Regions from separate parts of the Homo sapiens genome. Here region 2 is linked to region 1. A link means that fine-mapping ties the variant in region 1 to the expression of a gene that starts in the linked region. Tissue or cell type: whole blood. Region 1 holds a variant in brackets; the other region holds the start of a gene. All regions are shown on one strand. Distances are from middle to middle.

Region 1 (2,848 bases):
GTTTAATTTTCATGTATTTATTCAATTTTCAGTGTTCTTCTTGTTATTGATTTCTAGATTTTATTCCATTGCAGCCTGAATATTTGATATTATTTCAATTTTTTGAGTTTGCTAAGACTTGTTTTGTGCCCTTGCATGTTGTCTTTCCTGGAGAATGTTTTCATATGCTGGCAAGAAGAATGCGTATTCTGCAGCAGTAGGATGAGTGTTCTGAAAATGTCAGTTATGTCCATTTGGTCTAGAGTGTAGTTGACTTTTCATGTTTCTTTTTTTTAATTTTCTCTCTGTATGATCTATTTATTGGCAAAAGTTGGGTTTTGAGGTTCCCTACTATTATTGTACTGGAATCTAGCTCTCTTTTTGTGCTCTGATGTTGGGTACAATTATATTTACAATTGTTATATCCTCTTGCAGAATGATCCCTTTACCATTACATAATGACCTTCTTTGTCTCTTTTTGCAGTTTCTGACTTAAAAAGAGACAAAGTGTTGGGTCTTGTTTTTTCATTCATTCAGTCACCTTGTGTCTTTTAAATTGGAGAATTTGGTCCATGTTTACATTCAATGTAATTAATGATAGGTAAACACTACTGCCATTTTATTGTTTGTTTTCTGGTTCTTAAGTCCTTTATTTTATTCTTACTATCTTTCTCTGTGGTTATCTTCCCTGGTAATACATTTTAATTCATTGCTTTTTATTTTTACTGTATCTATTATAGGTTTTTGCTTTGTGATTGTTATGAGACAAAAAATCTTATAGTTATAATAACTTGTTTTAAACTGGTAACTTTCATCACAAAGAAAAGAAGCAAACAACCAAGTTTTTTAGTTGTTTTTAGAAGAAACTAAAAAACCCTACAATTTAACTCATCTTCCCCCACTTTTTGACTTTTTAATGTCTCCATTTTTAACTTTTTATGTTGTTTATCTCTCTCTCGCTTTTTTTTTTTGAGATGTAATCTTACTTTGTCACACAAGCTGGAGTGCAGTGGCGTGATCTCAGCTCACTGCAACCTCTGCCTCCTAGGTTCAAGCTATTCTCCTGCCTCAGCCTCCCTAGTTGCTGGGATTACAGGTGCCTGCCGCCATGCCTGGATAATTTTTTTTATATTTTTAGTACAGCCAGGGTTTCACCATGTTGGCCAGTCTGGTCTCAATCTCCTGACCTCGAGTAATCCACCCGCCTCGGCCTCCCAAAATGCTGGGATCACAGGCATGAGCTACCACACCCGCCCTTATGTTGCTTAT[G/C]TCTTAACAAATTGTTGTAGTTATTATTTTTGATAGATTTGTCTTTTAGTCTTCATACCAAAGATATGAGTGGTTTACTCACCACAGTTAATGTATGAGAATATTCTGAATTTGTGTATTTACTTTTACCAATGAGCTTTATACCTTCAGATGATTTCTTGTCACACTTTAGCATTCTATTCTTTCAGATTAAAGAACTGCCTTTAGCATCTTTTGTAAGTCAGATCTGGTGCTCATGAACTCCTTCAGCTTTTGTTTGTCTAGCAAAGTCTTTATTTCTCCTTCATGTTTGAAAGATAGCTTTTTTGGGTACAATATTCTCAGTTGAAAGTTTTTTTCCTTCAGCACTTTGAATATGTCTTCCCACTTCCTTTTGGCCTGTAAGGTTTCTGCTGAGAAGTCTGCTGCAAGACATATTGGGGCTCCTCTATATGTTATTTGCTTCAAAAGAAAAGCAGCCCTTGCTGCTTTTAGAATCCTTTCTTTATCCTTTACCTTTGAGAGCATAATCATTGTATACCTCAGGGTAGTCTCATTTGGGTTGAATGTGCTTGGTATTCTCTAACCTTCTTGTGCCTGGATATTCATAACTTTCTTTAGGTTTAGAAAGTGATCTATTATTTCTTTGAATAAACTTTCTACCCCATCTTTTTCTCTACTTCCTCTTTAGGCCAGTAACTCTTAGATATGTCCTTTTGAGGCTATCTTCCAGATCTCGTAATGTACTTCAATCTTTTTTCTTTTTTCTCCTCTGACTTTGTGTTTTCAAATAGCCTGTCTTTGAAATCACTCATTCTTTCTTCTGCTTGATCAGTTCTGCTGTTGAGACACTGTGATTATGCATTTTTCAGTTAATCAGTTGTACTTTTCAGCTACAGGATTTCTATTTCTTTTTTATTATTATTATTTCAATGTCTTTGTTAAATGTCTTTAATAAATTTCTGAATTTTTTCTGTCTGTTTTCTTAAAGTTCATTGAGCTTCCTCAAAACATCTATTTTGAATTTCCTATCTGAGATATCACATATTTCCACCACTCCAATGTTGGCCATTGACCCCTTATTTAGTCTGTTTGGTGAGGTCATATTTTCCTGAAGTTTTGTGCTGGATGCTTTTGGATGCTCATTGATGTCTTGGCATTGAAGAGTTGGGTATTTATTCCAGTCTTCATAGTCTGGCCTTGTTTATCCTCATCCTTTTTCAGAAGGCCTTCTAAGAATTCAAAGGCAGCTGAGTCTTGAGTTCAGTAAGCCTGTGTCATTACAGCTATTTCAGCACTAGAGGGTGTCCAAAGCCCAGGTACACTAAGATTCCTTACAGATTCCTGGATACCCATCCCTGATGGACTTGGAAAAAATAAGGGAAGTCCCTGGATACCCAGGAAAAGTCCCTCACTCTCTTCCCTCTCTTTCCCCCAAGCAGGAGTCCCTCTCTGGGGTTGGCCACTTGGTGTTGTGGGAGGGGTGACTCAAGCACTCTGGCCATTGCAGCTGGCAGTGCGCTGAGTTGCATCTGATACCCATGACCTCCCAAACCAGCATAGGACTAGGACACTCAAGGCCCATGGCTGCTATTGTCTGACTGCACTGATGTTTATTCAA
Region 2 (2,674 bases), 47 kb before region 1:
GTGATACAATAATACTAACCCTTATGCAGTACTTAATCTGTGCCAGGCACTGTTCTAGGCACTTCACAAATACTAACTCATTTATCTTCACAACTCTATGAGGGGAGTACTATTACCTCCATGTTGCACGTGGGGACACTCGGGGCCAATGACAGTTTGGCACATTGGTCAGCCGACTGAAAGCTGTGATTTGGCTCCTGCCTTCCTGACTCACTCTGCCCCCACCAGGCTTCACTCGGGCTAACTGCGGTTCTCAGAACTCCCTTGGAGGCCTTGTTCTCTCCAGCTCTGTGCTTTTGCGCATGCTGTCTTCCTGGACTGATCTTTTCCGCCTGGGCTCCGTCTTCTAGACCAGATCAGGCCCCTCTCCTTAGCAATGCCTTTTCTGGTTAAGGCAGTCAGGCCAGGCACACCTGTCTAGCACCCAGCCCTTCTCTCCTCACCCTATTTGCTTACAGATCTGTCTCCAACACCAGAGACTGTGGTTCTGGGCCTGGCTGTCTCCTCATTGTTGAGTCCCTGGGGCTTGCTACTATGTCTGGCCTATAATAGGCACTCAAAGTTTTGCTGAATTTATGCATAAGCTCTCCGAATTTTGCTTTCTTGTCTCCCCCATACTGTCTGACACCACATATTGTAGACACTTAGTCAATGGAAGTGGGAGTCTGATTTTCCTGCCAACAGCCTAACTTAATAAAAACAAAGCAAAACAAAAACCGCCCCCTTCCCCTTTCTCCCATCTCCACATCATAATTAAGATCCCGAAAATTTGGGATCCTTCCAAGCCCTCCGATCAGTGGAACCCGGCAGGACATGAGAAGTCAGACTCCCTCCACTGGCCGGCTGGGTTGAGGGCAGCCCACAGGACTCAGGGCGCCGCCTCCCGCACCCTCTCTCAGTTCTTGCCTATTAAGGTAAGAGTCCCCCGAGGAGGGGGGAGGGGCCGGAGGGAGGGTCCCCTAGAAGCTGCTTGTGTGCTTGCTCCGCGCCGCGGAGCCGCAGCCCTGGACACTCAGTCAGGTGCCCCGCGACTGGTCCTGCCAGCTTCGGGGCAACCTCCGACCCCACTTAGCTCTTCTACCCGAGGTCACCTTCCTAGATTTCCATAGCCACGAGACCAAGTGCTTATCCCTCAAGCATCGCCCGGGCCTCAAACCGGTCTCCGCACAGGGCGCTGATTAAATGGGTCCCCAGTCCCCGGTGGGCGCTCCCGCCCTGCAGGTGCTCCGATAGCCGGCGGCGGTGCGCCCACTGGAGGGAAGGAAGGTGGTCCCTGGGTCCGGGAGAAGAGCGAACGTGCTCCCTCGGGCTGCTCGATCTCCACCCGCTGGCGCCCCCACCCGTCGCCAGCCACGCCGCTTGGGGTCCACGCGCCCCTCCCCGCCGGGCCCCGCCCCGCCCCCCGGAGGCCCCGCCCCGGTCCTCCCCGCTCCGCCCCCTCCCCGCCGGAGCCTGCCGCTCCCCGCGCTCGTAGCGCGGGCCTGGGGACTGGGGATCCCGCCGCCGGGCCGCAGCATGGGGCGCTTCCGCGGGGGCCTGCGGTGCATCAAGTACCTGCTGCTTGGCTTCAACCTGCTCTTCTGGGTGAGACCAGGAGCCGGGAGGGCCGGTCAGGGCAGGGGGCCGGGTGGCGGGCGCGGGGCCGGGGTCCCCGAGCTGCTGACTGCGGCGTCCGAGTCGCGCTCGTGGGGAGGGCTGGGTGCTCAAACGCGGAGGCGAGGAGAAGGCAAACAAAGAGGGAGGGGAGGGATGGAAGGGAGAGAACGGGAAGACAGAAGGTTGATCAATGAGAAATGGTGAGAAGGGGAGAGACACCGTGTGGCTCTTTCCTGGAAGGAACCCCCACCTGCCTTGGTTTTTATCTCCCAGCTAGTGACCCCAGGTGCGGGGACCCAGCCTCTCCTCACCTCCGGAGGACTTGGGTCCCTGTTCCCCTCCAGTCTCCCGTGCACACACCCCCTTTTCACTCTGCCTACCAGCTGGAACCAGGGCCTGGCCAGGGTGATGGGAGAGAAACCCCTGCCCTGGGGCTGCCTGGGGTGGTGCTCCATTCGAGTGTGTGGACACTGTACCTGGCTGTGATGGTTTTGTTTAGGAAATTGGAGATAGGAGTGAAAATTGTGGTGGGGGGGCGTCGTCCTTTTTCTGGGCATCAGGGTAAGAGTACCCCTGGGTGAGAGGAGGTGGTGGGTTCTCTTCTGAGAAGGGGATGGGGAATGGAAGGGCTTCTAAAGGGCAGCAGCAGCTCTCCACAACCCCCAGCCGCAGCCTCTGCTAAATACTAATTCTCCCAGAGATGATCTCATTCAACTTTGCAGGGTTTGATTGAACTGACAGCGTTCCCAGGATTCATGGTTCACAGAGAGATAGGATCTTGACCCTTGTCTCCTATATTATCGAGACAGGGATACAGCTAGACCAGACCTACATCCCTGGATACCCTGTCCCAGGGCCTGCAGGACTGTGAGACAAGGTCTGAAAATTGTCTTTTCTGCACATTTCCTCTTGGGCTTTCTTAAGAGAATGTCAGCCAGTGTAACTGCTCAGCTAGACCCTGAGGGGAAACATTGGATAAAGAGGTTTGAGAGCAGCCAGGGCCTGGGTGCTTTGAAACTACCAGGTTGGAGGAGGTGGCTGTCCTATCTGCTCTGGGGGACGTTGTCTTCCCATGATT

The links. PIP is the estimated chance that this variant, and not a neighbour inherited with it, causes the effect.
Region 2: it holds the start of TSPAN2, and the variant in region 1 is the best candidate, but not a certain one, in a credible set for the expression of TSPAN2 in whole blood (INTERVAL, PIP 0.82).

What each region holds. Positions count from the first base shown.
Region 1 is chr1:115,041,539-115,044,386 of GRCh38, reverse strand. No RefSeq gene overlaps it. Among named protein-coding and RNA genes, the nearest start is that of TSHB, 13 kb to the right of the region's middle. The variant G/C (reference allele first, on the strand shown) is at 1,249.
Region 2 is chr1:115,088,274-115,090,947 of GRCh38, reverse strand. TSPAN2 (tetraspanin 2) reads left to right here and starts at 1,445. Exons shown (of 8, transcript NM_005725.6): 1 at 1,445-1,584. The coding sequence starts at 1,516.